Homo sapiens: one gene and its partner. The protein of the gene in region 1 interacts with the protein of each later gene in a pairwise test. Each region holds a gene or a part of one and is shown in the gene's direction. Other genes may lie near its edges.

Evidence for each region.
Region 2: the proteins of HS3ST3A1 (region 1) and UPF2 interact in a two-hybrid assay, tested with the Homo sapiens proteins (one large-scale study listed by BioGRID).

The regions. Positions count from the first base shown.
Region 1 is NC_000017.11:13,599,130-13,603,214, reverse strand, and holds the start of HS3ST3A1 (heparan sulfate glucosamine 3-O-sulfotransferase 3A1), read left to right. Parts: upstream 1-1,285; 5' UTR 1,286-2,085; coding exon 2,086-2,684; intron 2,685-4,085. UniProt on the Homo sapiens protein: Sulfotransferase that utilizes 3'-phospho-5'-adenylyl sulfate (PAPS) to catalyze the transfer of a sulfo group to an N-unsubstituted glucosamine linked to a 2-O-sulfo iduronic acid unit on heparan sulfate.
Region 2 is NC_000010.11:11,948,810-11,952,309, reverse strand, and holds part of UPF2 (regulator of nonsense transcripts 2), read left to right. Parts: intron 1-60; coding exon 61-244; intron 245-3,500. UniProt on the Homo sapiens protein: Involved in nonsense-mediated decay (NMD) of mRNAs containing premature stop codons by associating with the nuclear exon junction complex (EJC).

The DNA.
Region 1 (4,085 bases):
CTTGAGCCTGCGGTGGGCCCTTGTTAGCACCCGCAGAGGTCCCAGAAAGCTGCCTCCACAGCTTGCAGGGGCTGGTAAGAAGCTCCCAAGCTACCGCCCACATGGTGAGGCAACCTGTGGAGGCAAGGAAGCCAAAAAATAAGGAACAAATAGGATTAGAACAAAAAACCACCTCATGCAGCTTCCACGGGCCACCTCCCTCCATTAGACAGCAAGGCGGTTTGTATCCCTTCCTGACCTGCTCTCCGGGGAGCGCACGAAGAGGATATAGGGTCAGGGGAGGCAAGGGAAAGAGGAAACCGCAGTTTATGAAAGGACATTTAACCTCTTTGCGAGCGTGCATGCGCGCGCGCGCACACACACACACACACACACACACACACAAAAGTACAAACAACATTAAGGAAATACACACTACATTAAAAATTGGGCATAGGGACTTGGAATCGGAGTTGAATTTTTTTTAAATTTTAATTTTGCCTTTGATTTATGCATTGGTTTTTTTTTTTTTCGTAAGAGGTTGTTCCTTTCTAGGCCCTGGAGGACTGTATCATCTTATACAAATCCAAGGGAAAACAATCAAAATAAGAAAAGAAAAGAAAACAAACAAACAAAAAACAGACTGATACGAGAAAGAGCTTTGCTCCAAGACCCGCAGCAGACAGTTGAGTAGGTAGAAGTCCAAGCTGCTGCAGAGGAATTCGGTTTGCTCCAGACAAACGGGGGCGTGGCGTGCAGCGCAGTACTGGGAACTGCTGCAAACAAAACTTCCAAGGGGACGAGGAGTAGGTTCCAGGCGATGGAAAGCAGTGGGATGGGGAAGGATAGGGCAACAGTGCCAAGAGGGGAGCAGAGCGCGGGGAACCTGGAGAGGGAGGGTCAGGGCTGCGGAGGGCTGAGCTGCGGTGGAGAGCTCTGGGGCCCCTCACCAAGCTAGTGGCGTCTTGGGTGGAAGTCAGGCCCCCAGAGATCCGGCCGGCCTTAGCTGTCACTCAGGCAACCCCGGAGCCGCCGCAGACACCGGATCCACTGGAAGGGGGCGAAGCCGCGGGGAGGAATGGGGGACACTGGGGAAGGGGCGTCGCCCCTGCCGCCCCCGCCCTCTCCAGTGCCATTGGGCGGCTGCTGCGGAGCCCGCGCCACCTTTTCTCCATCCCACCCCGCCCGTCTGGCCCCGCCTGGCCGCTGGTCCGCGCCCCGCTGCGCTCGTCCGGGGGCTGGTCCGGCCCGGGCCTTTGACGTCACCAGCAAGTTTGCTGCCCTCGGCGTCCCACGTGTGGCGGCGGCCAGCGGCGGCCCAGGAGGCAGCCGGTGAGCGCCTGCGAGCAGAGTGGCGGGGGCCGCTGACAGGTCCCGCGCAGCCCAGCCCAGCCCAGCCACGCGGCTCACAGGTGGGGTCCAAGAGCAGTTTGGAGCAACCCGGCGCTACGGAGAGGGGTGGACGGCTCTGCACGGGCCTCCTGTCTCCCGCTCGGGCAGAGGGACTCGGGGGGACCTCGCTCCTTGGCTGAGAGAACCTGAACTCGGGCGGAGAGAACGCGCCCAGGCGGGCAAGGGGACCAGAGAAAGCCGGGGCTGGAAGTCACTGTCGCTCGCCACTGTCTGGAGCGCACGGAGCGCAGAGGCCCGGCAGCCGCGCGTGCCCTCACGGGGACCGAGCCAGTGATGCAGGATCGCTGAGCGGAGATCCGCGCCGAGAAGTCTCTCGGGGCCGGGGCTGAGACGCACGCCTTCGACACCGCTGCCAAGACCCCGATTCCGGCGACTCTTGCGGGGAACCGAGGGGCCAAGGCTGCCCCAAGCTCAGGACTTGGGCGAGTCTAAGACGATGGTTTCTTAAGCACGGACCCGCGTTCCCCTTCCCGCTCCCTCGACTGGAGGCAGGGATCCTGCGCGGGGCCCCCGGGATTCCGTTTCCCCGCGGAGCCCCGGCCGCTGCCTCCCGGGACAGTTCGCACGGCCACAGGGGCGCACGGCGATGTGGCCTCCGTCCAGCGCGCTGGCCCGCCGGGGGGATGCTCTGGCACCTGTCGGGGTCCAGGCCTAGCATGGCCGGCGCGTTGCCCGACGTCGCCTCCGGCTAGGATGGCCCCTCCGGGCCCGGCCAGTGCCCTCTCCACCTCGGCCGAGCCGCTGTCCCGCAGCATCTTCCGGAAGTTCTTGCTGATGCTCTGCTCCCTGCTCACGTCCCTTTACGTCTTCTACTGCCTGGCCGAGCGCTGCCAGACCCTGTCCGGCCCCGTCGTGGGGCTGTCCGGCGGCGGCGAGGAGGCGGGGGCCCCTGGTGGCGGCGTCCTGGCCGGAGGCCCGAGGGAGCTGGCGGTGTGGCCGGCGGCGGCACAGAGAAAGCGCCTCCTGCAACTGCCGCAGTGGCGGAGGCGCCGGCCGCCCGCGCCCCGCGACGACGGCGAGGAGGCGGCCTGGGAAGAAGAGTCCCCTGGCCTGTCAGGGGGTCCGGGCGGCTCCGGGGCCGGAAGCACCGTGGCCGAGGCCCCGCCGGGGACCCTGGCGCTGCTCCTGGACGAAGGCAGCAAGCAGCTGCCGCAGGCCATCATCATCGGAGTGAAGAAGGGCGGCACGCGGGCGCTGCTGGAGTTCCTGCGCGTGCACCCCGACGTGCGCGCCGTGGGCGCCGAGCCCCACTTCTTCGACCGCAGCTACGACAAGGGCCTCGCCTGGTACCGGTGAGCGGGGCGGGCCCGGGCTGGGGCTGAAGGATCCGGGGGTCCTGGGCTGGGAAAGACGTGGAGGAGCCCTCGGTGACCCCCAGTTCGCCCTCCTCCCCACTTCATGCAGAAGGCGAAGGGTCGTCAAGGGTCTTTCTTCCCTCTCCGCCTTCTCCTTCCTGGGAAGTGGATGTTGAAGGAGAGAGTGGGAGGGAAATTCTGGCCTTCATAATTTTCATCCTTGGGAATCCCTTGCCAGCAAATAGCCAGTCTGGTCTCTTTCTCCTGCTCTGCGAAAGTATTCATGTATTTAACTAAAGGAAAAAAAAAAAGTCTCTTCTAAATTAGAAACCTGTTCAACAATTAATAGATTGCCTTCTCCTTCCCAAGGAAGCCCGTTTTCATTCTTTATCTTTTGGAAAGTTCTTTGTGGTTAACACAGTCTTTACCATCAGGTATTTATTTACCTTGACCTTTTGCCAGATAGTTGTCCTAGGTGGGAAGTAATATAGAGACTTAGTAAAAGTGTCAAGAACCAGAGAATCTGGGTAGTTTGGAAAATATATGTCTGTCTGAGCAAGGGAAAGCAACCAGGCACTGTATTTTAAAGGACGCTTGGCAATAACTTTTGTTTGAGGGCAAGGAATGAGTTTTGTAAAGTGCTTTTGATATTTGCAGGGAAAAGTAACTTTTGTCTTTTGACTGACAGAAACTTTTCTAAAGATCTTCAATCCTCTTTACAAATAAGGTAGCCAATTAAAAGAAGAAGACAACAGAGAGAAAAATACATTGGCACAACTTTGCCAATACAGTTTAGGAAATAAGTCTGGCTTAGATCTTAATCTTAAATTTGCCAGTCTCTTCAAATTCAGACCACCTTTAATAATAAAATCAGCCAGATTCTAATAAAGCTAGTGTCGCCTGGATTTTGTTTGCCATAATATATTGGCTTTTTTTTTCTTTCTTCAAAGTACCAGTAAAAATTATGTTGCTAGAATTTTCCATTTTATAAAGTTTATCTTGTTCATAAAAGATGCATTCTCTTTGTTATTTTAACTGAAACAGTTACAAAAATTACAACATAATTTAGGTATTTTCAAAAAGCCCATTAAATTAATCATTCATCCCCAACACAGAAATGGATATGATTTGACAAGTTTATTTACTTGAGGGGCCAATTGCAGTCTCAGATTGATTTCAGGAGCCGAATTTACAGTCAATCCACTCAGAGAGAAAAGATTTGGCCCTAAAAATAGAATTTGAACATTAAACACTTTTAAAACAGTAACTTTCCATTTGTTGGAAAGAAAAAACAAACAACCTTCCCTTAATATAGATGATATATCATTTAAAATCATCAGCCACTTAAAATATCCCCTTGTGTTTCTGTCATTTATGTTGTATCCTCTGGGAAGTTCT
Region 2 (3,500 bases), on another chromosome or scaffold:
ATTTTAAAATATTTTGTTACTAATTTCTTATAGCTAAATTTATTTTTCATTTGTTATCAGCGTTATGTTTGGTGGAAGAAAAGTTTGGAGGTTTGGACAAAAGACCATCCATTTCCTATTGATATAGATTACATGATCAGTGATACACTAGAACTGCTAAGACCAAAGATCAAACTCTGTAATTCTCTGGAAGAATCCATCAGGCAGGTACAAGACTTGGAACGAGAATTCTTAATAAAACTAGGTAAGCAATTGATTGCAGACAGAAAATGAAGGTGATATTTGGCAGATTATTTCTGGAATTTGCTTTATAATGTTACCAGTCAGAGCTTACATTGTATCTTTTCTATTTTCGGTGTTGAGTGTTACGTAGTAGTGTTAGGTAATGCCTGTGTGGTGTGCTTGATTTCACTAAGTAATTTCAAACCGGAGGACAACAGTTAAGCAGGACTTGCAGGACAGGACTTGAAGCAGGTGACAGTGATGGGGGAAAAAAAACCCACAATCCTGTCTACCTCTCTTACTTTTAGAATTTTTGGTTGCTAATATAAAATCTATTTTTTATTAAAGCATTTCTTATTTTTGCGTATATATTTTCAACAGGCATTATTTCCTAGAAAGTGCAAGCAAAGAAACTGTAGAAGGGAGTACCTGTCAGAAGTTTGGAACTCTACCCTACAGGATTTCAGAGCTTACCCACTGGCAGAGTTGCTTCTGTCTCTAAGGACTAGAGAAAATCTAGAGATAATTAGAAGGTTCTCTATATACTTTAGTATCCTGAGGTTGTTTTGGGGAGAAGAGTTAACTCTTGAACAGCTTCCACTAGAGCTGCAGGAACCTATATGTCTTTAGAAATAACCAGTACAAAGTATAGCCATACCAATCTGGTTTATATGCTGATAGTTCTTAGCATGTTTTATTGTAGTCATTTTAAAGTGACACGTTTTGGCCAGGTGTGGTGGTTCACACTTGTAATCCCAGCACTTTGGGAGGCCGAGGCAGGCAGATCACCTGAGGTCAGGAGTTTGAGACCAGCCTGGCCAACATGGCAAAACCCCATCTCTACTAAAAATACAAAAATTATCCAGGAATGTTGGCGCACACCTGTAATCCCAGCTACTCAGGAGGCTGAGGCAGGAGAATCGCTTGAACCCGGGAGACGGAGGTTGGAGTGAGCCAAGATCACGCCATTGCACTACAGCCTGGGTAACAAGAGCGAAACTCCATCTCAAAAAAATAAAGTAAATAAATAAAAAGTGACCCGTTTTCAGACTATTAAGCTAGTGTTTGATTTCCCACTAGAACTTGGTACATTCATGTCTGTCATTAAGGGATCTTTACTTTCGCCAGTTATGCAAATTATATAAATTTACGACATCGCATATCTGAAGAACCACTTTTCATGGTAAAGGTTTTACAAGTGCTGCTACTGATTGTGCAAGTATTAACTTTTCCTACAACTTAACCCGTAAAGGCATATATGATTCTTTTTGTTCTTTGAACCTTTTTCCAAGTTACCTACTTTCTTTTCCTTTTGAAATTTCTAATTGAATACATGATCTCATATTGAGCAGAGTATTTATGAACTTATTTCACTTGCTTTGGATCCTTGGAAAATTGTTAAGTCTTAGCCTTGTTTCCCAAAAACCTGCATGAATGGTATTCTCTGTATAGTGGACATGAGTAAATATTAGTGTGACACCTAGTTTAGTGACAGAAAAGAGAACAGTTGTGCTTTGTCCTTTGTAGATCAAAAGGCTAAATTAAAGGACTGCAGGCTTCTTGTGAGGACTTTGTCCTTGTTTAGAATATGGAGGTAAAAATAGATCGCTGTTTGTGAATGAAACTCTAAAGATGGTAGCGGCCGCAATCAGTGCACTCCCAAGTCTCCATTTGCTTCCTGGTTGAGGAAGAAGACGTATGCAGAAAAATCAATATTAAATCCGTTTCCTACTGATAAACCAAAAGATAATACAGTATTGTGCCTTTGGTAGTTTTTTGTTTTCAGACACCTGAAAATTCATTGTCTCATGTTAGTTTTATAGTATCCCAATGTTAACATAATAGTTAATTGGAAAACACTAAAACCATTTTTATCATATTTTAAAAATAACTTTTAATAGTATTAAAAGTAATGTGTTCATGACAGTAATTTTTAAAAAACCAAGAAAGCAATACCAATATTCCATACAGAAAGATAATCGTGTTAATATTTTAATACATATTTTTCTACTCTTTTTAAATTTTTTTTGTGTTTGTGATTTTCTAACCAATTGGTTCTACTTAATACATTATGAAATTTTTTCTTGACATTACACATATTCTCTTAAAGCTTTATTTTTTGTTTTGTAATTGGCTGTATTCATTTGTATCTATGTGCCATAATTTACTTAATACAGCTGTTTCACTCTTAGGTTGATTCTAGTTTTATACCACTGTAAATAATATTTTTAGTGTACCTGTGATTTTCTCAGGATAGATAGGATTACTGGCTCAGATTTTTATTTTAATTTAAGAACAAAACTAAAATGGTAATTGGCAATGTTATTTAATTCTGGTTTGGAAGTGTTCAAAGCAGTATTCATGAAATGAGAGGGTTAAATCACATCATCGCTAAAGTTTCTTCCTGCTTGAATCCTCTAAGATTCTATGCATGAACAGGTATTTATTTAACACCTACTGTGTATTTATTAATATATGGGCTGTCTTAAGTTTTGAACATTTAAGACAAGTTCTTTGTCCTCAGGGGTCTTATAATCTGATGTAATATTTATGAGATCGTTAGGAAAAAATAACAACATGCTATATCATCAAATGTAAGATGCTGTAAGTTCTCCACATGCTTTAGGAGCAAATAGGAGAAAAAGTAATAGATTGAAGTACTCATTGACAGTTCATGCAGGAAGTAAAACTGAAACTGAACATGAAGAGTGGATGGGATTTGAAAGTGCATATTGAAGGGTATTCTCTATTGAGAAGGATATTGGGCAAGCAAGATTTCAAAGCAGTGTGTTCTGTGACAGGAGACGTCTAAGGCAACTTCAGGGGAGGGCTTAGGAGAGAGGAGTGGGTAGCAGATCAGTGGGATCAGATGAGACCACATTGTGTGCATATCAAAAGTAGAGAGGGTGGATTGGAATTCCAACAGGAAGAAGAATTGACTGGGCAGTGAAATGTGGGATGGACACAGGAGGTGAAAGCAAATTCAGGCCAGGGAGTTCCATTAGGCTTAGGAGGAGAATGCTGTTATTGAAGAAAAAAAATTAGTCTGTATGGTGACAAAGCTGCTATGGCGTTTTGCCCCATTCCCCCGTCTTAATTTGCATACATTCAAATTGATAGCCACATATGATTTCTCCATTAAAGTGGCACGATTTTTTTCATGTCTTTTGAGTTTTTGGAGACTCTTTAAATCTCACTTGGTAAAGAGTGTGGCCAACGCTGTATCTTACATATGGCTGAGACTGTACCTCATCTGTTACTGTTTTCTACCTTTGTCC